Homo sapiens: one gene and its partners. The protein of the gene in region 1 purifies or fractionates together with the protein of each later gene. This does not show direct contact. Each region holds a gene or a part of one and is shown on either strand. Other genes may lie near its edges. The genes, in order: HACL1, TMEM67, PTPRF, ASPSCR1, PLXDC2, MME and NT5E.

Region 1 (3,500 bases):
GTGTTTTACACATACGAACTGATTTCATCCTCACAGCAGTGCTTTGAATTATTTTCATTTTATAGATGAAGAAACAGAGATTTAGAGCAACTTGCCAAAATTACACAGTAGAAAGTGGGGAAGCTGGGATTTAAATCAAAACAGATTGGCTCGAGAGTCCACTCTCTAAGTACCATGTACACTGTTCTGCCTGTGAATGGAGGTAGTTTAGTAGAGGAACAGATCTTTTATGGTCATAAAACCAGTTATGGCCAGGCGCGGTGGCTCACGCCTGTAATCCCAGCACTTTGGGAGGCTGAGGCAGGCAGATCACCTGAGGTCAGGAGTTTGAGACCAGCCTGACCAACATGGAGAAACCCCGTTTCTAAAAATATAAAATTAGCCAGGCGTGGTGGTGCATGTTTGTAATGCCAGCTGCTCGGGAAGCTGAGGCAGGAGAATTGCTTGAACCTGGGAGGTGGAGGTTGCCGTGAGCCAATATTGCATCATTGCACTCCAGCCTGGGCAACAAGAGCGAAACTCCGAAACTCTGTCTCAAAAAAAAAAAACAAAACAAAACAAAATAAAACAAAACAAAACAGTTACCTCTCAACTTTTGACATTTCCTACCAGAGGAATATACTTTTTGTTACGTGTTGTTGTATATTTTGCATTGCCTAGCAACATTTCTTACCTAGCTATCATAAGTGGGCAATTCTTTTGGGTGTCTAAATAAAGTGTTCTTATTGCAGCAGGTATTTACATGCCTGCATTTCTTAGGAGTTGTCTTATTCTCCTAATGTGAATTTGGCCTTATGTGCAAAAGGAAAGAGAGATGGGGCCAGTAGAGAATAGCGACACAGGAAAAGAGCAGAGTCTTTGTGCAGGTTCTCAGTGGGTGTATGATAGTAGAGCCAGTTAAGATTATGATCCATAAACATTTCCTTTTTTTTTTTTTCCACATTTATGTCGTTAATGTGGAGTTCTTTAAGACAGTATACTACTTCATTTAAAGCTGAATGAAGGCTAGGAAATACGCAATTCATTATTATTTCTAAAGAAATGAGAAGAAATAATACTGGGAAAAAAATGATGTCCCAGACTAAGAAGAATTTGAGAGAGCACTCAGCATTTTCCCAGGTTATCTTGTGTGCATTTAATTTAGTGCCCCCTCTCTTCCTGATTATGAGCTGAAGTAGAGTTACAAGGTAAAAACTATCCATATGCAGGCCATAAAGGAAATCTCAATAAATCGCCAAGGATTGAAAGCGTGCAGTATATGTCACCTGACCATGTGGAAGTAAAGTGGAACTCAATAAGAGATCACTAAAAAGAATCTCAGACCTTTGGAAATTAAGCAACATACTTTTTGGTATTTTGTAAATATTTGAAAAGATTAACAAAATGAATAAACTTCAAGATAGACTGATTGAGAATAAAAGAGAAAACAGATTACCAATGTCAGGAATGAAAAAGGAGGTATCACTACAGATCCTAATTAACCAATGGGTTGAAGAAGAAATCACAATGGAAAGTAGAAAATATTTTGAATAGAATGATAATGAAAAGATGCAACTCAAACTTGTAACCTATAACTAAAGCAGTTCTTGGAATCATTTTAAACAAATTATTAGTAAAGAAAATTAAAAACCAGTGTTCTAAATTTGTATTTTAAGAAGCTAGAAAAAGAAAAGCAAATCAAATTCAAAATGACTGAAATAATAAATACAAGAACAGAAATCAATGAAATAGAAAACAAACAATAGAGAAAAACCAACAAAAATTTTCGAAGAACTAAAAAAATTTGTTCTTTGAAAAGATGGATAAATTTGATAAACCCCTCATGAGACTGATGAAGAATAAAAGAAAGAAAACAAATTACCAATATTGTTAATAAAAGAGGACATTCCTATTGATCCTGCAGATATTTAAGCAATTGTAAGAGGATGTTTTGAATAACATACATATGAACAAATTTCCTGAAAAACTAAAATTTAGATAACCATTATTTGAAATTTATGTGTAGAACATTTATTACTAAGGTTGGAAATATTTTAATTCTGCCTTTACCACTATGTTCTTGTCTATTATTTAATAGTAAGTTGCTGTCATAAATGTACTATAAGGATCCCAATATGCTCAAGTCCCAGTGTTGTTTTCTCGTAGGCTTGTTATGCTGCCTCCGCGATTGGATATCTGACAAGCAGGTAAACTAAAATTTGTTTCACTTCAATTACTTTAATATTTTGGGGTAGAACTATTACGTCTTTCAGCTGAAGGATGAGTTCATTTGGAAAGATTATAGAAAAATATATTAAATAACAAAGGATAAAAAACATTTAAAACTCTCTGAGGACCACATCAAAAGAATAATGATACCAGAAGTGTTTCAGAGTGGAACACATTGCCATTTTGTAGAGTGAATCACTGGTGATCAGATAGTGAGTTGATGTATGATACCTTGTCTTGGATCTCACAACTACCCCAGCACACTTAATACAAAAATGCTTGGTTCAAAATGTGACTGTTGAGAGCTGTTCCACACGTTCTGATTTTTTAGTGTGTATCCATGTTACCTAACTACCACCCCCTTTTTATTATTAAAAATTAATACATTTTTAAAATGTCCATTTTGGAAAACTTGGAAAATATAGAAAGCACAAAGAAGAAAATGAAAATCGACTAGGCACGGTGGGTCACGCCTGTAATCCCAGCACTTTGGGAGGCTGAGGCAGGTGGATCACCTGAGGTCAGGAGTTTGAGACCAGCTTGGCCAACATGGTGAAACACCATCTCTACTAAAAATACAAAAATCACCCTGGTGTGGTGGCATGCGTCTGTAATCCCAGCTACTCGGGAGGCTGAGGCAGGAGAATCGGCTTGAACCCAGGAGGCGGAGGTTGCAGTGAGCTGAGATTGCGCCACTGCACTCCAGCCTGGGTGATAGAGTGAGACTCCGTCTCAAAAAAAAAAAAAAAAAAAAAAAGGAAAAAAGATGAAGAAAATCACCTATGATCTCAGAACTGTTAAGAATTGGTCATTTTCTTCCAGTTTTTTCCCTTATCTATGTATTTTTTAAGCAGAATTTGGACTCTCACAGGAATGTGTATCATACTTTTTTCACATATGTTAGTTTTAATACATTTTTTTATTTCCAAAAATGAAACTAGTAATTCAGTTGCTAAGAAATGCAAACTAATAAGATTCTCAAAGTCTAGACCTCACCAGAATAGTTTTTTTTCTGTGATAAGGAACTTGTGAATTTGAACCTGAAAAAAATAGGCCATCAAGTAACACTATTGTCACTGTTTTCTGCCGCTTTATTTACATATGACAAATATTTTAATCTTTTCATTTAGCTTGGAAAGCATTTAAATTATAGTTATTAATTAATGCCTTAATGTAAAAAATGCTAGAACAATGATTAAGAGAATGGTTAAAAGTTCATACTTTTTTTTTTTTGAGATGGAGTCTTGCACTGTTATCTGGGCTGGACAGTGCAGTGGTGCAATCTCGGCTCA
Region 2 (3,500 bases), on another chromosome or scaffold:
TCCCCAGTAGCTGGGACTACAGGCACCCACCACCATGCCCAGCTAATTTTTTGTATTTTTAGTAGAGACGGGTTTCACCGTGTTAGCCAGGATGGTCTTGATCTCCTGACCTCATGATCCGCCTGCCTCGGCCTCCCAAAGTGCTGGGATTACAGGTGTGAGCCACTGTGCCCGGCTGACTCCTGTGTCCTTTCAACATTTCCCACCCCACCATTTTTTTGAGCACTTCCTTACTTGTTCACAGTGTTTTTGAACACCGATGACAGAAATTACATAAATTCTCAATTGTTCTTTTGTTTTTTAGATTGCTTTGGGTGTATTGGGTGGGCTAGCTGTTTTAGCATCTCTTTTGAAGACAGCAGGATGGAAGAGGCGCATTGGGAGTCCCATGATTGATTTACAGGTATAATCTCAGGAGTTTTTTAAGAATATTTTTATCTTTTGACCATTCTGGATCCTTCTCATAAGACACAGCTAGAGAATAAGTAAAAAAGTTGCATTGAATTTTTCTGGGATATGTAATTAGGGTAAGTATTGCTGGGTCATATGGTATATGTGTACCTCATTTTCTTCCCACCATACTGTATGCCAGTCTATATTCCCACCAGCAATGCTCTTCTTATTTCTGCACATACTTGGCAACACTTGATATTTTTCCAACCTTTTCATTTTTTGCCAACCTCATGGCATATAGTAGTATGTCATTGTTGATTTCATTTTCATTTCTCTGTACTCTTCATATACATTTTAATCGTTTGGGTTTCTCCTTCTGTGAACTGCCTGTTTATATCCCTTGCCCATTTCTCTATTATGTTTCCAGTTTTTATTGTTTATTTGAAGAATTTTTTTTTGTATTTTCTAAATAGTAACCCCTTTTTGGTTTCTGATGTTGAAATATATGACCAAATAAATATGTGACCCATCCGTTATTTTTATCCATGTAGTCCTTTGTTTAACAGAAACTTTCAGGTTTGTTTTTGTTTTCATTTTTGTTTTTTTTTGTTGTTGTTTTTTTGAGACGGAGTCTCACTCTGTCGCTGAGGCTGGAGTGCAGAGGCACAATCTTGGTTCACTTGCAACCTCTGCCTCCCGGGTTCAAGCAATTCTCCTGCCTCAGCCTCCTGAGTAGCTGGAATTACAGGCGCACACCACCATGCCTGGCTAATTTTTGTATTTTTAGTAGAGACGGGGTTTCACCATGTTGTTCAGGCTGGTCTTGAACTCCTGGCCTCATGATCCGCCCACCTCAGCCTCCCAAAGTGCTGGGATTACAGGCATGAGCCACCACGCCTGGCCAGAAACTTTTGGTTTTGATATCATCATATCTGAATATTTTTTTTCATGTTATGATACGTGCTTTTGGGATCTTGTTTAGGAAAACCGTCCCTATATCAAGATCACAAAGATAGTCCACATTTTATTCTATTAACTTTATACTTTCACTTCATGGTTAACCTTTTATTTTTATTAAACATTTAAAAAATATTTACCATGTACCAGGCACTTTTTAAAGCTTTATGTATGTAATTTTCTGAATCCGCACAGTAGCTCTTTGAAGTTAGGTTATTATTATTATTTGCGTTTTACACGTGATGAAATTGAGGTAAAGGTTAAATTTTCTACTCACTTGATTTTTGCAACTCAGTAATAGGTATTTCCGTTTTGTTGATGAAGAACATGAGAAAGGTTACATGGTAGCTTTAACCAAAGTATCTTTCTGATTCCAAAGCCAGTGGGCTAAGGAATCAGCAGGGGTACTTGATTTACTACTTGGGATAGTCCAGAAAGGCTTCCCAGAGAAATGAACTTTAAGTGGGATTATCTGTTCATTCTATAATAGTCACTGAGGCTCTATTGTCTAAGTGTCTGGCACTCTACCAGGAGCTGGAGAATGTGTTAGTGAGCAAAGACAGACATAGTCTGTGCTCTCAGAAATCATGAGAACTTACCAGAGAGGGGAAGAGAAGAATATTTGGTAAAACAATGCCCATTTTATTCCAGAAAGTATTTGAGATGAACGTATGGAGTGGTTAGTCATTGACTACATGGCTGGAACTGGCAGATGAGGCTAAAAAGTTAATTTTGGCCCATATTGTGAAAGACCTTGTGGATCAGGAATTTATATTGCAATGAGGAGTTGTTCATTTTTAACAAGGGGAGTGACACAATCCAATTTACATCTTAGAAAACTAACTCTGGTGGTAGTGTGGAGGAGAGATTAGAGGGGAGGATTCCCAACTAAGAGAAAATTAGGAAGCAGTTCAATTTTCTTAGATAGTGAAAGATGAGAAGAGTTGAAAGAAGAGGCTACCAGGAACGGCCAGAAAGGTAAGGAGCCAAAAGGTAGCAAGGAGGAGGAAGCAGGTGGTCTTTATAGCTGGATCATATGGGGATATGTGAAACAAGGCTTCAGGCTTAAGAAATGGAGTGGATGATGTATAAAAGTGGTAGTGTTACTAAAAGTGGTATATACATGGAGTCTTAAACAGCTGTAATTCTTTTTTTTAAATTGCAGACAGTTGTGAAATTCTTGGTGTACTATGCTGGTGATCTGGCCAATGTTTTCTTTATCATCACAGTGGGAACAGGTCTTTACTGGCTTATTTTCTTCAAAGTGAGTGAGTTTCTGAATTTTCCCCAACTGCCAATATCTGAATAGTTGAAAAGCTTTCTTTATAAAGGAACTATTTTTATTTGAGAGAATTTTTGATCAACAGTATTAAGAAAAGTTCCCAACTCCCCATTCCTTGAGTGTGCTGAGCTTATCGATTACATCACTATCTTCCTCTTTTATGCTTTCTTTGGTTTATAAATTGTGCTTAGTAAAAACCTTGTTCAATTGGAAGACTTAGGTGGGAGGATCCTGTGAGTCCAGAATCAAGTCCTGCCCGGGCAGCATACTGAGACCCTCCTTTCCCAAAAAAAAACAAAAACGAAAACAAAAAACAAACAAACAAACAAAAAAAACTGTGTGTGATAATATTTAATCAAGTAATTTTTATTATAGGCACAGAAGTCTGTGTCTGTTTTGCTGCCAATGCCAATTCAGGAAGAACGTTTTGTCACTTATGTTGGATGTGCCTTTGCTCTGAAGGTAAGTTTTAAAGGACAGGTTACCAAATTTAAAAGGCCTGCTAATGAACTAACAAGTCTTTAAAATTAAAATGCTTTCAAAAATCTTTGGCGTGAAATTCACTTTGGTTTTGAAAGAAAGCATTAATTATTTTATGTGGTAAATTTACTTTTATTTATAGTAGATGCTCAGTCTGAAACTCTGCCTTAAATATTTTTTTCAAAGAAGCCATGAATTTGTATGGCTTATTTGATAAAATGATATTTCAGTATATAACTTTCTTTAAAGTCTGATGATACATTCACAATGGGACAAAATGTCTTCAGGCATGAATTTTGTCTCCATTAATCAAGGGTAAAAGGTACCACTCTGGATAAAGTGTTGAGATCTTAAAAGTTGTTTTGTCTGTCTCCAGATTCCTTTGCTC
Region 3 (3,500 bases), on another chromosome or scaffold:
CCCGAGGACCTGCCCAGCGGCTTCCCCCAAAACCTGCATGTGACAGGACTGACCACGTCTACCACAGAACTGGCCTGGGACCCGCCAGTGCTGGCGGAGAGGAACGGGCGCATCATCAGCTACACCGTGGTGTTCCGAGACATCAACAGCCAACAGGAGCTGCAGAACATCACGACAGACACCCGCTTTACCCTTACTGGCCTCAAGCCAGACACCACTTACGACATCAAGGTCCGCGCATGGACCAGCAAAGGCTCTGGCCCACTCAGCCCCAGCATCCAGTCCCGGACCATGCCGGTGGAGCAAGGTGTGTGCTGTGGACATGGCATCCCTTCCCGAGTGTGGCTGCATCTGGGGGTCTCTGCTCTCCTTGAGCCACTGACCTCTGGCGACTGTGATCCACCAGCCTCTGGTGTGTGACCTCCAATCTCTCATGACTGTGACCACTAACCTCTAGTGAATGGGCACCACATTCTTGATGCCTGACCTCTGCTGTCCTTAACCTACTGACCTCTGCTGTATGACCTTCTGATCTCTTGTGACCTTGACCCACTGATCTCTTTTGACTGTGTCACTATTCTTGGGTGTGCAACCTCCTGATCTTTGGTGTGTGACACTAATCTCTTGGGGCCATGACCCACCGACCTCTAGTGAACATGCTCCACCACGCTCTGGTGTGTGGCCACATGCTTCTCATGACCGAAACCCACTGACCCTCTGATCACTCTGGCCTGGTGTCCATCGGCTCAAGCTTTTACACTCGCGTTTCTGGAGATTCTGACCCTGGTTGCTGTGGCATCCCCCGCCCTGTTTGGTGCTCACTGTGGAAGAGCTTGGGCTGGGAGTTCAACTGTGCCGTTTGAAGCTGGCTGGGAGTGGGGCGCTTGGTACTCTGCAGCCATCCTTCAACCCCCTGTTCCCCAACCAGTGTCTCATCCTGGCCATTCACCTTCCACCCTTCCAGCCCATTCACCCCACCTCATATACCCAGCAGAGCTGACTCTCTCTATGCCTTTGCAGTGTTTGCCAAGAACTTCCGGGTGGCGGCTGCAATGAAGACGTCTGTGCTGCTCAGCTGGGAGGTTCCCGACTCCTATAAGTCAGCTGTGCCCTTTAAGGTGAGTAAGGGCCACGGCCAGCTGAGCCTGGCACACACACAGGCCTGCTGGGTGCTGTCTTTCCAGTCCTAACCCATGTGCATCCGGCTGTGGAGCAGGAATGTGGTTGTGTATCCGTGCACTGTGCCTTGCAGCCCGTGGTAGGGAACCTCACCCAAAGGCATTGATTGCCCCTCCCGTCCCCCACAGATTCTGTACAATGGGCAGAGTGTGGAGGTGGACGGGCACTCGATGCGGAAGCTGATCGCAGACCTGCAGCCCAACACAGAGTACTCGTTTGTGCTGATGAACCGTGGCAGCAGCGCAGGGGGCCTGCAGCACCTGGTGTCCATCCGCACAGCCCCCGACCTCCTGCCTCACAAGCCGCTGCCTGCCTCTGCCTACATAGAGGACGGCCGCTTCGATCTCTCCATGCCCCATGTGCAAGACCCCTCGCTTGTCAGGTGTGCACACGAGGTATCGGGGGAGGCGGGGCAGGGCTGGAGGTAACCAGCAGTGACAGTCCTGATTCCTGCCCTGCCCACCCAGGTGGTTCTACATTGTTGTGGTGCCCATTGACCGTGTGGGCGGGAGCATGCTGACGCCAAGGTGGAGCACACCCGAGGAACTGGAGCTGGACGAGGTACCTGGGGAGGGGATGGGGACACTGACAGCCCCATTGCAGTGGTCAGCTGTGGCCTTCCTGCCCTGAGCACTGTCCCAGTGACTCTCAGATTCACTCCCCAAATTGAAATCTCTCTTCTGGCTGGCAGCCCGCCCCTCTCTGGAGAGAGGGACTCTGAGGAAACCATCTGGGAGTATTCACAGAACTCCCGGAGGGCTTACGAAGAATCCCTGGGGTGGGATGTCGTGGAGATGCCTCTGCAGGTCTAGAGAATGCCAAGCCCTGTAGACACTGCAGAGCCTCGCAGATCTAGAAGCTATGGAGGGCTTAGTGAGCCTTATAGCCAGGAGTCCCTGAATGTTTGAAATCCTTCAGTCCTTTCTCATAGCCAGTGTGGCAACAGCCTGGTTAGGGTGGGGCAGCTTACACACAGGGCTGCTTCTCATGGGCTGGTGGGGAGGAGTGGCTTCACGGTGTCTGTTACTCTGTAGGGGCAGTGGGTTGGGCAGGTGTGGGCTCTGACACGGAAGGTGAGCCTTGATCTCGGCCCAGGGAGCTGACATCCCAGGCCACAGCCTCAGGGCTGGCCGGCATGCTCCAAGGCCCCTCATGACCCCCATGCTCTGCTCTGCCAGCTTCTAGAAGCCATCGAGCAAGGCGGAGAGGAGCAGCGGCGGCGGCGGCGGCAGGCAGAACGTCTGAAGCCATATGTGGCTGCTCAACTGGATGTGCTCCCGGAGACCTTTACCTTGGGGGACAAGAAGAACTACCGGGGCTTCTACAACCGGCCCCTGTCTCCGGACTTGAGCTACCAGTGCTTTGTGCTTGCCTCCTTGAAGGAACCCATGGACCAGGTCTGCCTGAGCCGGCTTGGCTGTCAGCACCCTGATTCCCTGGGCCTGGCCTGAGACGATGCCAGTCTCAAACACCACAAGACCCCAGGTCTTTATCAGTTTGGGGGCTTCGAGATCCTGGGGCAGCACTAAAGACCCAAGATCTGTCCCGGGGATCCTAAGACGCGGCCCTGGGACCCAGAGGCCAGACCTAATGTGGCTCCAGGGACCCAGTCCTGCCAGGTCCACCTTGTAGGGTCTGGGAGACCAGGCCCAGGGTAACCCAGACCCAGAGCCCTTTCTCCAGGATTAATAGGCAGAGGGTGGGGGGTTCTCACGCTGAGCTCACAGCCTGCTGTTCTCCACCGGGCCACAGAAGCGCTATGCCTCCAGCCCCTACTCGGATGAGATCGTGGTCCAGGTGACACCAGCCCAGCAGCAGGAGGAGCCGGAGATGCTGTGGGTGACGGGTCCCGTGCTGGCAGTCATCCTCATCATCCTCATTGTCATCGCCATCCTCTTGTTCAAAAGGTGAGCACTGCCCTCAGAGCTCCGGGAACGGCCACCTGCCCCTCGCCTTTCAGGCCCTCTCCGGGTGTGGTGCCTGTGGAGAGCGTGCAGCCTTGCATCCTGGACCCTGAGCCTCAGGCTCAGCAGGAAGGCAGGAAGGGCAGGAGCAGTGTGTGTGCCTACCTGTGTCTGCAGGCCTGCATCTGTCAGGTGAGGGAGCCTCTGCAGCAGCCTGGGCGTGAGGAACTAAAGCCTCAGAGGGTTGTCTCATGTGCATCCCTGGCACGTCTGTCTGTCTCTGTGTTTCTGTGGATAAGAGTGCGTCTGTCTCCTCTTCAGTTTTAAGACACCGCCATCTCCTGAGCTCCTACCTCGAGTCCTTTCCTTCTGCCACCATTCCTGGATGATTCCCCAGCCCTACTCTCCTGCTTAGGC
Region 4 (3,500 bases), on another chromosome or scaffold:
CTGTGGCCAAGAGGGCAGCGGGGGCAGCTGGACTGGGGTTTTTGCCGACGCTCTAATTTGGCGGCTGTCGCCACCCCTCCCCCCCATGGAGACCCTGACGTGGCCTGAGCCAGACTCCAGGGGCCATGTGCCCTGCTGGGGAGCAGGGGCTCAGCATCAGGTCTGGTGCACTGACTGGGAGAGGGGGGTCTCCAGCCCTGGACAGGCTCTGAGTGGGGTGGGGTCCCCCAGCTGCTGTGCCCAGCCCTGCCCCCAGGACCTGGCCTTGGCCCTGCGCTGGCCGGGGCCAGGGAGGGAGTGGGCCCAGCTCCCAAGTCTGTGTGACCACCTCGGCTGGGGCACTGACAGCCCGGGGTGCGGAGGGCCCAGCCCGTGACACCCGCCGTCAGCCGCGCCCTCTGCCTCCAGCCCGTGGACCGGGAGCCCGTGGACCGGGAGCCGGTGGTGTGCCACCCCGACCTGGAGGAGCGGCTGCAGGCCTGGCCAGCGGAGCTGCCTGATGAGTTCTTTGAGCTGACGGTGGACGACGTGAGAAGACGCTTGGCCCAGCTCAAGAGTGAGCGGTGGGTGCCCCCTCAGTGCCTCCCGGCATCTTCGCGCCAGGGTTTGCCCCATCGGGTGCTTGTGCTGCCCGCTGTCCCCAGTGCCAGCACTGGCTCCCGGCCCAGGTCCCTGACAGGCTGCCCTTAACAGGACCTCAGAGGGTTGGGGCCCAGGGAGGGGCGTCCAGACCTTCCTGCCTTGTGTGGGGAGAGCAGCCCACTCCCACCCTGGAGGGTGCAGGTGAGGAGCCCGGGGCCTGTTGCCAGGGCCCCCATTCTGACCAGAAGCCCTGTTCCTTCCCCTCCTCACCACAGGAAGCGCCTGGAAGAAGCCCCCTTGGTGACCAAGGCCTTCAGGGAGGCGCAGATAAAGGAGAAGCTGGAGCGCTACCCAAAGGTCTGCAGACAGGATGTGGGGGCGACTGAGGCACAGCTCTGAGGGGGCCCCCCGTGAGGTCTGTGGACGGGATGGGGCGACTGAGGCACAGCTCTGAGCGGGCCCCCTGTGAGGTCTGTGGACAGGACGTGGTGGCGACTGAGGCACAGCTCTGAGCGGGCCCCCTGTGAGGTCTGTGGATGGGACGTGGGGGCGACTGAGGTACAGCTCTGAGGGGGCCCCCTGTGAGGTCTGTGGATGGGACGTGGGGGCGACTGAGGCACAGCTCTGAGCAGGGCCCCCCCGTGGTGGCGCGCATGCCCTTAGTGGCCAGTTGATCCTCCCCTGCTCATGATTTAGAATGAAACCTTTTTTTTTTTTTGAGACGGAGTCTCTCTCTGTCGCCCAGGCTGGAGTCAGTGGTGCCATCTCAGCTCACTGCAAGCTCCGCCTCCCGGGTTCAAGTGGTTCTCCTGCCTCAGCCTCCCAAGTAGCTGGGATTTCAGGTACCCGCTACCACTAGCTCGGCTAATTTTTGTTGTTTTTTTTTTTTTTACTAGAGATGGAGTTTTACCATGTTGGCCCGGCTGGTCTCGAACTCCTGACCTCAGGTGATCTGCCCGCCTCGGCCTCCCAAAGTTCTGGGATTACAGGCTTGAGCCACCACACCTGGCTGAATGAAACTTTAAACAGCACATTTGAGCCGGGCGTGGTGGCTCACGCCTGTAATCCCAGCACTTTGGGAGGCCAAGGTGGGCGGATCATGAGGTCAGGAGATCGAGACCATCCTGGCTGACACGGTGAAACCCCATCTCTACTAAAAATACAAAAAATTAGTCAGGAGAGGTGGCGCACGCCTGTAGTCCCAGCTGCTCGGGAGGCTGAGGCAGGAGAAAGGCGTGAACCCGGGAGGTGGAGCTTACAGTGAGCCGAGATCATGCCACTGCACTCCAGCCTGGGCGACAGAGTGAGACTCCATCTCAAAAAAAAAAAAAAAAAAAAAAAACCAGCACATTTGAACCCAGGTCAGTGTGGTTTTAGAACGCAGGCCGCTGTGCACACACACGGCACTTGGCTGTCTCCATGCCCAGCCTGCCACGGGGGAGTCAAAGCCCAGGCCCTGATTGGGGGTGGCTGCTTCTGCCTGCCTCAGCCCTGGTGTCCATGGCCCAGCATGGGCCGAGTGGGGAGGCCACGCCCTGGTCCCTGGTGCAGCTCCGGCCGTCCCTCCAACCCTTCCACTTGTCTGGCCTAGGTGGCTCTGAGGGTCCTGTTCCCCGACCGCTACGTCCTACAGGGCTTCTTCCGCCCCAGCGAGACAGGTGGGCAGCGCTGTGGGGTGTCCGGGGATGGGGGGCAGGGGCCCATGGGGCCTCTCCCGGCTCCTTCCTTCCAGGCCACAGGACTGCAGCCACCTGGCCTGCGGGCTCCAGGGCACTGGGTGGGTGCGGGTGCTGATGTCCCCTTGGGGGTGCAGAGGCATCCCAGTTCGCAGAGTGTCAGGCAGGCTGGGCGCTTGCTCCAGGTGCCCGGCCCCAGCTCAGGGAGCCCGTGGTCCTGAGTGCTCACGTCGCCCACCTACTGGGCATGGGTGGGGCAGAGGGGCACCCAGAGGAAGGCACCCTACCCCGGGAGGAGGGCAGTGGTGCTGTGACATTCAGGGGCTTGTGACCTGTACCCAGACGGCCGGGCGGCAGCAGCCCAAGGTCACAGGGGCCTCCCCCAGGGAAAGGGAAGCGCTTAGGCTGGGGCGGGGGTGGGGCTGGGGGGCAGCGGGTGGCAGTGGGAGTGCTCTCCAGCAGGGCGGGGGTCCCAAGTGTGGCCCGCACGGTGGCCCAGCCACGCCGAGCACCTGGAGTGCTGTGGGAGGAACAGGGCTGAATTCCCACCCCTCGGGGAAAGGCCCAGGAGGGTGGGAGCAGTGGCCCAGGTGCTGGGGCAGCCCGGGGCTGGCGTGGTGGAAGAGCTGTCTGTATGTTCTTTTTCTCCTCTGCAGTGGGGGACTTGCGAGACTTCGTGAGGAGCCACCTGGGGAACCCCGAGCTGTCATTTTACCTGTGTACGTTTTTTCTCCTGAGCCCACTCCTGCCTCCAGTGCTCGGGGCCTTGGTGCTGTGGGCACACCGCCCGTCCCAGCTGGGGCTCGTGGCAGCTTCTCCACAGGAGCAGCATCTGTGGCCTCCCGCCCAGGTGCCTCCTGCAGCCCATGGTGTCTGTGTGGAGACCTAGGAGGGCCCTTCTCCCCGAGCCAGGCGGTGGGAGCCAGGCTTCCTGCCTTCTCTCTCAGCGCCCTGCTCCCCTCTGGAGCCCTGCTGCACCCCAGCCTGGTCCCCACCCCTGGGGCTCAGGCCACTCCTGCCCGAGGGCTGTGGGAAGGGTGGGTGGACAGGGAGTGGCTGGCCTCCCTTGGAGGGTGTCTAGGTGGCAAAGGGTTAGGCTGCCCACTGCAAGGGGAGCCGGGCTGCACGGGTGGTGTCCCCTGCAGGTGGGCCTGCCCCCCACCGGCCCTTCCGAGCCCTCAGCTGGAGTTTCTGCAGCAGGAGTGTGGGCACAGGGCGTGCTCGTGAGGGGCTCTTCTGCCC
Region 5 (3,500 bases), on another chromosome or scaffold:
AGTGATTTGGTTGCCATGTGCGATCCTAACAGTGACATCCTAAGGAATGAGTGATTATTTAGCAACCCTCTAAATATTTCCCTGCTTCTCCAGTTGCGAGTTCTATAGAAGAGTTAATGTTATGCTAAACTGAAAATGTGAGAATGAACTACCTACTAATCTTTTACTTTTAATTTCTGTCCACCACCCTGCACCCTATCCTTCCTTTTCTGAACTGCATTGTGGTCTTCTTTGAAGATGTTCCAGTGGATTTGATCGTCATCGGCAGGACTGGGTGGACAGTGGATGCCCTGAAGAGGTACACATGCTTTATTGTGACAGAATCCTGGGACCAAGCTGTCATATACATGTGTTTTAACTGTTAATAATTTTTATTCAAAATTTATGCCCTAAAACTTAATGAAAGGAGAAGAATCCTTCTATAAGCCCAATGTCTGCAAATATTAGGGGTTCGATAACAGCTGGCTATTTTTGTTAAATTAGATAACATTTTCATTACATTGTAGCAACTTGCTACAACCCCTAATAGATGCAGACATGGGGCTTAACTATTTATATGTATTATCTCATTTCATTGTCATATTCATTCTATGAAGAACAGTGCCTGCACTGTCACTACCCCCATATTACCAAGGAGAGAAAGGGGAGGAGTGAGGGGAGCTTGTGGGGAGGGGTGAAGTGTGGGTTCTTGGAGAGTCAGGTAAATGGCTAGGGAATAGTAGGGCCAGGATTGGAATCTGTAGAGGAGTTCTCTTAAATGCTTGCTATTTTTCTAGGATGTACGAAACCATTGTTCCTCTTTGTAATTCAAACAGCAAGACCAGTGGTATTGTGGAGGGTGGAAGACTGCAGCAAATTGATGTGCTGTAATAAATGAGAAATTGTATAACATTAGTTGGCATAGAGAGATGGTATAATGTTAACTCTGAGGGAAACATGATAGAGACAAGGATGCAGTGAAGTCGTGTAAGCAATTGGATACCAGAAACAATTTTAACCCGTTTAAAAGCTTTGCAGTGACTCGCATTTATACTATCATTTCAAGATCATATAAAGATATCCTATAAAGTTTATGAAGAAAAGCATTTACTTCTTCTCCCTTCATTAAGTTTTGGGGTATCAATTTTGAATTAAAACTGCTAACAATTACAAAAGTTTAGCAAAGCAAGCCATGCCAAAATGCTGTTTTAAAAACTATTTGTTCAATGGTTACTTAGAGACTTTTTAAAAATTCATTTTTGGGGGGCATGTTTCATAAAGATCTTGAGCAATACATTTTTAAAAACATTCTTGAACTTTAAATGCAGTATTGCCAGTGTAGCTATAACCAACCTTTTGGCATTTCATTTAGGGAATGACAGCAGTGTGTGCTCATCCGTCTCACCTCACTTATCTAATAACGTAGTTCCAAAGAGTATCTATTGACAAAGCCATAGTTGTGTTTTGAGACAATCATTTCTTTCATATAATCAGTTACCTCAATATAAAATGTTGAAAATGAATATCTCCATATATGTAAAGATTGAGAATGTAATTCAGATGTATATTTTTTCTCCCAAATTTGGTTTATCTTTTCATTTTCTCTATGATTTTATTTCACTAACATTAATTATCAATTTAATCTGTCAAATGTATGAATCTTTTATTTTTATGATGAGTTTTATATGCCTGTGCATCTTCTTTTAGAAGAATTTTCCTACCAAATTCCATCTAGGTGTTATTTTTGTGTATTTTTTTCTGAATATTTTAAAGCTTTGTCTTACACGTCAAAATCTATTCCATTTGGAATTGGTTTTTATGTATTATATAAGGTAGAGATTCAGTTTCGTGGGGTTTTTTTTCTTGATGGATAGCCAAATTTCAAGCACCATTTGTTAACTAATCCTTTCTTTTGGCAATATCTTGCAAAGTCACCTGTTTTATGTATATTTTCTGGGCTCTCCTCTTCTAAAGCTCTGTCAGTACTTAGATCAGTGTCCCACTGTATTAATTTCTATTGTTTTATAAGAAATCTTACTATATACAGGACAAATCTCCTTACTTTTTCTTCTTCACAAGTGTTTGGGTATTTTAGGGCTTTTGTCCTTCATATAAATATTAAACTCACCTTGTCGAGATCTGTAATCCATCTATCAATACATCTTACTAACATTTTATTGGAAATACATTAAATTATGAATTAGATCACATTTCCTAATTACAGAGGCTTTTAAAATTTACCTTTTTTACTATTGACTTCTAGACTAATTGAGTCATCATCAGAGAACATGTTATGATCTTTAAAGTTGATTGGAAATTTTTCATGAACAAGTACATGGGCATTTTGTACAAAGGGTCTATGTGTGTTCAAGAAAAATGTGTGTTTTCCTGTTGGTTGGGTGTCAAGCTTGATAAATGTACTCTTCAGCTATACTTCTCCACTCTCTTTATTTTCACCTTCTGACTTCTTTGAAAGCTTGCCATTTTCATCTTTTCCTCATATTTTTAAACCTCTATTATATGTAATCTCTTTCCTTATTACTCTGTGCTGTATTTGGAGCAATTTCTTCAGATGTATTTACCGGTTTATTAACTCTCCCTTCATCTTGTTTAATATTCTATGTAATCTACTCACTGAAGTAGAAATTCCAACAAACATTTTTCATATCTAAAATTAAATTTGACACTTATTACATCTGCCAAGTATTTTATAGTTTCATGTGAACCGTTCATTTCTCAATTTTATCTTTTATGATTTTAAATATTCCGTGTATGATTTTTGTATATTCCATATTGGATGATCCCATTATCTAAAATTTTGGTGATCTAAATAGTGTGGTCATTGTTTTTGCTGATTCTTTCTCAGACAGCTATTTTTTTTTCTTTTTTAGTGTATATTTGTCTGATCCTATTCTAAGACCTAAATAGGTGATGTTTTCCCCCAAAGAAGATTTGATGATGGGATCCTCAGGATTTTCAGGCTACCATAAGTCTCTGCCCTAATGTGAGGAGGAGAAGTTCAGATTTTTCTCCCCTGTCTACTACTGCTGCAAGGCTTGTTCTCTTTAGAGCGATATTGATTTTGGATTTTTTTCCTCAGGGCAAATTCTGCTTTTTTAACTTCCCTTAATGTATACAGCTCCTACTGTCTTTATAGCACATAGCTTTTGCTTTGTTTTATTTTTTGAGTGGGGAGGGGAATAAACAATGGAAAGGCACCATTGGGATATTCTTTACCTCCTGCAAATCCTAAGGCTTTAAAATTCAAGTTTTATTCAGAATCTACTTGTTTTGTTATAGGAGGGCTATTTAGTTCCTTAGTCTGCCGTTACTGCCAAAAGCAATCTGAGCCTAGGATTTTACCTTAAACGTAGGGTGTTTACTGAACATTATTAGATCCTGTTTACGGAATACTAGGTCCTGTTCATTGACAGTAGAAACACAAAGAGAGAATAATATATGGCAAGTTCCATTCTATACTCCTTGAGTTTGAGATGTGTGTGACATTCACATGCAGACAC
Region 6 (3,500 bases), about 140 Mb from region 1:
AAATAAATAAATAAAATTAAAAATATCCAGCAGAAAATGGTTAAAATTATTTGGAACAGTTTATTTATTTCTTATAAGACACATAGATGTTAGAAAGGAGGTTTAGAATCTCTTGTTAAAGGACACAAATATTGTGTTCATATCCCAGGTGCTGCCCTCAGCTACCACCTTCCTTTTTCTTGAAGAAAGAAGAAATACTCCCATTTTCACCACACTCCAATTGATGGGATTTATATAGCTTCATACACTTCTCTGTTTTCTGCTCTGACTTATTTTTCTTCTCTTCTAATCATTGATGTTGTTTAGCCCTTGAACCTCTTCTTAAGTTTAGCCCTTGAACCTCTTCTCTTCTTTTGAGAACTCAAATACTTCCAAGGCTTCCACTATCACTCCTAAACTGACAGATCTCAAATCCAAATTCCAGCTTCTTAAACCTCATCTCTACCTTCCTCCTGTCTATTTTCATCTTAGACCAAACACATCCACATCCACCTCATAACCTCTCTATTTCTGTGTGGGCTGCCTCCATTCTCTTTAGTCCCTTGGGTTTTAAAACTTGGCATCATTCTCAATTCATTCATTTTATTTAGCAAGTCAGTTCTACTGAGTCACCCAATTCTCCCTCCCCATTATCTCAATAGTACTCTTCTCTCACCACAGGCCAACCTCTTCAGCTTACACTTGGAGTACAGAAGCAGCCCCCACCTGCCTGCCCTCCTTTTCACTCAATCCAGTCAACCTCACATTCGCAGAATCATCTTTCACCTTTGGCCTGATCACTCCTCTGTTCAAAAATATCTGTTTCTCCTGTATTACAATATCAAGGCTAAACATGGATTTCAAGGTTCTCCATAATGTGTCCTTCTATCAAGCGTACACTTTTACTACTTCTCAATAACATAGTTTCTTTCTTTTGTGTTTGGAATTCCCTCTTCTGCACCGCCACATCTAAATTCTAGCCCTGCTTCAAGGTTCTTCCCAAATTTAAGGCTGGGTGCGGTGGCTCACGCCTGTAATCCCAGCACTTTGTGAGGCCGAGGGGGGCAGATCACCTGAGGGCAGGAGTTCGAAACCAGCCTGATCAATATGGTGAAACCCCGTCTCTACCAAAAATACAGAATTAGCCAGGCGTGGTGGTGGGTACCTGTAGTCCCAGCTACTTGGGAGGCTGAGGCAGGAGAATTGCTAGAACCCGGGAGGCGGAGATTGCAGTCAGCCGAGATCACGCCACTGCACTCCAGCTTGGGCGACAGAGCGAGACTCTGTCTCAAAATATAAAAAATAAAAAAAATAAATAAAATGAAATTTCTTCCCAGATTTTAACTTCTCCACCTAGATTTACATGCCTACATCTCACTCCCTTCTTCTCACCCACCTAGTGAGGTGCACTGAGACATTTAACACAATGATACGAAACTTACCATTTCATATGTGTTCATTTTCTTTCTTCAACTACATGGCAAGCTCCATACAAATAGCGATATAGTTTTCTATTGCCCTGCTATACAGCCCAGGGCTGAAAATAGTAATATATTTTTCAGAGTAAACAAGTTAATTAATCTACTACTTAAATATATTTTTATTTCCATTGATTATAGAGCCAGACACATAAATAATTGATCTACAATGAATAAAAGTGTAAACAAAGCAAATTAAGATTAGCATTTAATTTTAAATATTATACATCAGTTGTATAACTATTACACGTAAAAACCATTTCTTACCTGATTTTATGCAGTCTGATGACTTGCAAATACCATCTAGAAAAAGGAGAGAATATACATAAATATTGGCAACACAAATTTTTAAATTTCTATTTTTCTTTTGTTCTTTTAAAAACTGCCAATTAAATAAGCAATTTCTTAAAGCAAGAACTAAAAACTGAACATTATATATCATTGTCAGTGGTTAGAAAAAATATAAGAAAATAAAATAAGTAAAATCTAAATTTAAAATTTTGATTATGAAGAAAAATGTGTTATTATATCTTCTCTACCAACGAAGCCCCAGGCCTATTAAATTGAAATAATCAGTTGTTTTTGCTTGGTAATCATTTTTTTAACCATTAAACAATCAATCTTTTTTCATCCTTGTTGTAAAAAACTTCCAAGACTCAAATTAAATTTGTTAAATTCCTGTGAAGCCGTTTAGAATTTCAATGACACAACAAAAGTTGACTAATGACTATTACTAAAGCTGGCCATAAAATTGTGTATATTTTAATCAAATAAAACCATACTTTAGATTCCTCATAAGTAAGCGTGAGCGCACTAAATATACTTGCAATTAATAACTTAGCTCAAACATAAAAGGCACCGTACTTCAAAGTTAATTATTTTGACATATTGATGTTACATTTTATAAATGAATCTCTTTGTCAGTCTTTAAGTGCCTCTATCCTTAACACATTCGTTGGATAGATGGTAAAAGCATGGAGGAAGATTTCCTTCTCTTTTGCACTTATGGATGCACAGGTGTGGGAGTAACTCACCATCGTAGGTTGCATAGAGTGCGATCATTGTCACAGCTATGATGGTGAGGAGCAGGACAAGGACCGAGAGGCTGATCTCCAGTGGAGTCCATCGCTGTTTCTTCTTTGGCTTTGGAGTGTTGATATCAGTTATATCCATCTGACTTTCTGACTTGCCCATCACCTAAAATCTGCAAAAAATGAAAATACTAATAATGAAAAACAAATAAATAAAAAAGAAAATGTCCAAATGCTTAATGTGGCTGGATAAAAGTAAAAGGCTCAGTTATTTTAAAATAGAAATACATTTTTGCTGTTGAGAAGTCAAAATTTTGTTGCTGAATGCAAAGTATATAGAGCCAAATGAATTTGACAGGTCTCAGTCACAACCTTTTGTTTTTTGTTGCTGTTGTTTTGTTTTGTTTTGCTTTGGTATATCACTGAAAATCTCAGCAAAATTAGACAGTAAGACTTGGTTAAATACTCAAGTAGGATTAATTCAGCAGTTTATAAGCAAATAATTGCTGTACCATCATTAAGAAAGTTTTAAACTCACCCTTTTGAACTCTGGACTAACATCAATGGTTAATTTTATATCTTGCTCCAGTGGCTTCCTTTATAAGCTCAAAAACCAGTGACTAATACCTTGAGGTTTTGACTAAGCAATAATTTGAAATATTAATATAGATAAACAGCAAAACGAATGAACACATGAAGTAGTTTATTTTAGTCATAAAAACAACCTTTATTTTTACAGTTCAAAATTACTACTACTACTGATACCAGTATCTATTAACTGGTTAGACAACATTCTGAAAATGGTCACTCACTGTACCAAAAGATACCTGAATATCCAACCTAACCACGCCCAATCCCATTTAAGAGGGGAGTAAGGGGGATAAGTAAACAAAATAGTACAAAAAGTTACCAAGTTGATACTTGTAGTCCTGTATAAAGCAGGGTATGCAAAAACATACCTGTATTCCTAAAATCTTTCACCTCAACTGGAGATGTGTTAAAAACTTTAAAC
Region 7 (3,500 bases), on another chromosome or scaffold:
CTCTTTCACAGGCACAGAAAGACAACACACAGTTTTAATGGTAATAACAAGTCCTATGGCTGAGCAAGACCAGGTATGAAGAACAAGCCCGTCTACTTGTCACCAGGCGGAATGGCCATGGTAGCTCTCTGGGGGCCTTACTGAGCCAAGGTCTCCTATGTCGGACTACTACTTCCATGGGCTCACAGCCTGCACCCAGGGAAGTCATTTCTGTCAGTGCTTGGCATGCATTGCCCAGTGCCCAGGATACAACTGCACTCGATAAATGTTTGCCGTGTAAATGACAACAATCATGCTCATGCCAAGACCAGACTCATGATGTCTCCTCAGCATCATGCAGTCAATGCCAGAGAAGTAGTTAAGGAGAAGCTGGTATATAAATGTTAAGAGAAGTCTGGAGGGAAACAACCCAGGCTGTTGGCAGTGCTTATCCACTCTGTTAAAGAGGCTAGGACAAAGGAGAGCTTTTGCTTTTTATTTATTTATTTATTTAATTAATTAATTTATTTATTTATTGAGACTGAGTCTTGCTCTGTCGCCCAGGCTGGAGTGCAGTGGCATGATCTCAGCTCACTGCAACCTCCGTCCCTTGGGTTCAAGCGATTCTCCTGCTTCAGCCTCCCAAGTAGCTGGGATTAGAGGTGTCCACTACCACACCCAGCTAATTTTTGTATCTTTAGTAGAGACGGGGTTTCACCATGTTGGCTAGACTGGTCTCGAACTCCTGACCTTAGGTGATCCACCTGCCACAGCCTCCCAAAGTGCTGGGATTTACAGGTGTGAGCCACTATGCCTGGCCTTTTTTTTTTTTTTTTTTCGGCTTTTTGTCTCCTAAATGAGAATATATTCATTTTATTTCTTATAACTAAACATATATTTTGTAAAATAAAAGTAAGAATGGATGTGATTCTCCCCAGCTTCAAAAGGCTGTCTCTGTCTTTCCAAAATTGCCAACTTGGGAATCAGCTGCAGACATAGACGTGGAGGCCAGGTTCTCTTTGGCATGAGGTCTGGTGTTGAGCAGGCTCTAGGGCCAAGCCCTCAGAATCAGGCAGAGGGCATGGCCTGCCCTGGAGAAGCCTGTGCAGGAGTGACTCTGCAGGCCACCTTGCATGGGAGGCCCAGTCCCGACACCAGGGCTACAACCGAGAGACCATTTTGCTAAGGCCACCTGGCCTGACAGTATGGGAGTTTTAGGAGGGGGAAATAAGAGTTTGACATGGACTGGTAACAGTATATTTTTACTTCTGGGAGCATAAAATTAGTTCTAATTATAGTTGAGAGATCCCTGGGAACACAGCAGCAGGTGAAAAGCAGCTTTATTTCCTCACTAGAGCTAACCAGATTCCTGGAGCTGATCCTAAGGAAGAAGAGCCAGAGTAACTAGTGTAAATCTGTGCTACTGTTGCAGATTAACAACAACCTGAGACACACGGATGAAATGTTCTGGAACCACGTATCCATGTGCATTTTAAATGGAGGTGGTATCCGGTCGCCCATTGATGAACGCAACAATGGTATGCTCCCAGGCCCAGCTCCTCAGTGTGTCATGTTCTCTCTCTGATCTCCTTTTCTGTTATGGTTCTTGCCCTGAACACACCCATGTGCAGCCTCAGTTCATCTCTGCTGCCAGCCATGTACCAGAATGTCAGTCCTTTAAATTAGGGTTAGCCATTATTAAAGTCTAAAACCTAGCCTGAAGGACACACACAAGCTTGTGTGTTCTTATATGTATTCACACACAGAAGCTGCAGGTAAGGTTAGTGGAACTCAAACTTGGTCTGAATTTCTGACTTACAAAGCTATACTAGTTGTTTCTGATTTATGCAAAATAACAACAGTCACCACCTTGGCATCTGAAAAGAGACAAAATCACCAATCTTCTGTCCTGAAAAAGACATACCACTGGATTAAAATGTTACCTTAGTATATTTACAGATATCCAAGATTATATCATATGGCAAAACAAATCAACTACACAAATACTCAAGACACTCTTGTAGCCCTCCCTGATTTACTGTGAAAACCAATCAGTATCAGTATAAGGCCCCAAACGCATCCCATTGTCAGACAACAGGGACAGGTTGCAGGGGCACATTGTTTGTCTGGAGGAACGGAACAATGCAAAACAAACTACTGGAGATCCAGCCCCAAGCTAGCAGATCTAAGACTGAGCATGGTGAACTTCTGAGGCACAGCCATTTGTGAGCTCCCGCCATCTTGCCCAGTGGTGGAGTGCAGGGCCAGAGGCCTCCTAAACTCATTCCCTTCCTCAGTGTCAGGAACCACTTAGACATAGCTAATGATGCTCTATAAGCTTCCCATGTCCCCCTCATTTCTTCCCCCAGCGCTGAGGGAAACTGGTCATGGTGTAAGCATTTTCTCAAGCTATTTTCCTTCTTGCCTCATCTGTGACTACCCTCAGGCACAATTACCTGGGAGAACCTGGCTGCTGTATTGCCCTTTGGAGGCACATTTGACCTAGTCCAGTTAAAAGGTTCCACCCTGAAGAAGGCCTTTGAGCATAGCGTGCACCGCTACGGCCAGTCCACTGGAGAGTTCCTGCAGGTGGGCGGTAAGTCACCCATCCTGTAGGGCTGGCCCATCCAAAGTGACATGGCATTTCCTGCTGGTTGGCTCAGCTTCCCCTTCACCAAAATTCCTGTGGTCAAACTGGTTTGGATTTTTCCCGACCCAACACCAATACCTTACCCTTTAATGGCTGTGGACTCTCAGAGCCACTAAGATTAGGTTGGGGTCAAAGCCCCAAAGCCCCAAAGCCCTGGCAATAAGCAGTATTTGCCAAGTCTGATTTGGACATCAGATGGGCCCTCTAAGCAGGTCACCTGCTTTGAGGTCTAGTTTCTAATAAAATCTTATTTAAGCATTCAATTATTTTTTTTTTAAATCCTCTCCTCTGTTCTACTCATCGTTGCCTGGAACCATGCCAAGATTTAAAGGAATGCTGTCCAATCTGTATTAACCAGGATGATTCCTGGAAGGAGCAGCCTACTGCACAGACATACCTGAACACCTGGTTCTAGTCCCACTGTGACCTGGGGCAAGTTCTCAACCCCTCTGGGCACAGGGAGAAAACCTTTCCTGTTTATCTCATGGACTGCAGTGAAAGTTGAATGGAAATAAATGCTTCCTAAATTGCCAAGGGCTTCTGAAACACTTTTGTTAATAATTCCACAGTCCAGTGAATTAATCCTTTAAAAGCAATCTTATTTTACCTGGAAATCATAATCTGGCCTCATTTTTTTAACCTTAGGTTGTGGTCCCGCTTGACAGATAGAATTGCTTTCCTGAGTTTTCCTCTGCAGAACACATTGCTGTTGAGACTGAAGGGCTACAGAAGGCAGTGGGGCCCTGTCCTAATGCCTATGGGGCAACCCAAACATCCTCCATTTTCCCAGAAGGGAGTTGAGGGAAAAGCAGTTTTCTGATGCTCTAGCAAAGCACTGCATAGCTCTATGCCTTGTGGAAGTCACCAAATC

Evidence for each region.
Region 2: the proteins of HACL1 (region 1) and TMEM67 fractionate together in Homo sapiens (co-fractionation; one large-scale study listed by BioGRID). This does not show direct contact.
Region 3: the proteins of HACL1 (region 1) and PTPRF fractionate together in Homo sapiens (co-fractionation; one large-scale study listed by BioGRID). This does not show direct contact.
Region 4: the proteins of HACL1 (region 1) and ASPSCR1 purify together in Homo sapiens (affinity purification with mass spectrometry; 2 studies listed by BioGRID and IntAct, with this or other methods). This does not show direct contact.
Region 5: the proteins of HACL1 (region 1) and PLXDC2 purify together in Homo sapiens (affinity purification with mass spectrometry; 2 studies listed by BioGRID and IntAct, with this or other methods). This does not show direct contact.
Region 6: the proteins of HACL1 (region 1) and MME fractionate together in Homo sapiens (co-fractionation; one large-scale study listed by BioGRID). This does not show direct contact.
Region 7: the proteins of HACL1 (region 1) and NT5E fractionate together in Homo sapiens (co-fractionation; one large-scale study listed by BioGRID). This does not show direct contact.

The regions. Positions count from the first base shown.
Region 1 is NC_000003.12:15,595,070-15,598,569, reverse strand, and holds part of HACL1 (2-hydroxyacyl-CoA lyase 1), read left to right. Parts: intron 1-2,145; coding exon 2,146-2,186; intron 2,187-3,500. UniProt on the Homo sapiens protein: Peroxisomal 2-OH acyl-CoA lyase involved in the cleavage (C1 removal) reaction in the fatty acid alpha-oxydation in a thiamine pyrophosphate (TPP)-dependent manner.
Region 2 is NC_000008.11:93,792,894-93,796,393, forward strand, and holds part of TMEM67 (meckelin isoform 1 precursor), read left to right. Parts: intron 1-304; coding exon 305-403; intron 404-2,515; coding exon 2,516-2,614; intron 2,615-3,007; coding exon 3,008-3,094; intron 3,095-3,500. UniProt on the Homo sapiens protein: Required for ciliary structure and function. Part of the tectonic-like complex which is required for tissue-specific ciliogenesis and may regulate ciliary membrane composition.
Region 3 is NC_000001.11:43,603,883-43,607,382, forward strand, and holds part of PTPRF (receptor-type tyrosine-protein phosphatase F isoform 1 precursor), read left to right. Parts: coding exon 1-307; intron 308-1,020; coding exon 1,021-1,118; intron 1,119-1,307; coding exon 1,308-1,561; intron 1,562-1,646; coding exon 1,647-1,740; intron 1,741-2,357; coding exon 2,358-2,576; intron 2,577-2,931; coding exon 2,932-3,086; intron 3,087-3,500. UniProt on the Homo sapiens protein: Possible cell adhesion receptor. It possesses an intrinsic protein tyrosine phosphatase activity (PTPase) and dephosphorylates EPHA2 regulating its activity.
Region 4 is NC_000017.11:82,008,629-82,012,128, forward strand, and holds part of ASPSCR1 (tether containing UBX domain for GLUT4), read left to right. Parts: intron 1-408; coding exon 409-563; intron 564-857; coding exon 858-939; intron 940-2,173; coding exon 2,174-2,240; intron 2,241-2,914; coding exon 2,915-2,977; intron 2,978-3,500. UniProt on the Homo sapiens protein: Tethering protein that sequesters GLUT4-containing vesicles in the cytoplasm in the absence of insulin. Modulates the amount of GLUT4 that is available at the cell surface. Enhances VCP methylation catalyzed by VCPKMT.
Region 5 is NC_000010.11:20,211,432-20,214,931, forward strand, and holds part of PLXDC2 (plexin domain-containing protein 2 isoform 1 precursor), read left to right. Parts: intron 1-237; coding exon 238-298; intron 299-3,500. UniProt on the Homo sapiens protein: May play a role in tumor angiogenesis.
Region 6 is NC_000003.12:155,083,319-155,086,818, reverse strand, and holds part of MME (neprilysin), read right to left. Parts: exon of another isoform or gene 2,777-3,500; intron 2,662-2,776; 5' UTR 2,652-2,661; coding exon 2,492-2,651; intron 1,761-2,491; coding exon 1,725-1,760; intron 1-1,724. UniProt on the Homo sapiens protein: Thermolysin-like specificity, but is almost confined on acting on polypeptides of up to 30 amino acids. Biologically important in the destruction of opioid peptides such as Met- and Leu-enkephalins by cleavage of a Gly-Phe bond.
Region 7 is NC_000006.12:85,488,083-85,491,582, forward strand, and holds part of NT5E (5'-nucleotidase isoform 1 preproprotein), read left to right. Parts: intron 1-1,411; coding exon 1,412-1,517; intron 1,518-2,425; coding exon 2,426-2,575; intron 2,576-3,500. UniProt on the Homo sapiens protein: Catalyzes the hydrolysis of nucleotide monophosphates, releasing inorganic phosphate and the corresponding nucleoside, with AMP being the preferred substrate. Shows a preference for ribonucleotide monophosphates over their equivalent deoxyribose forms.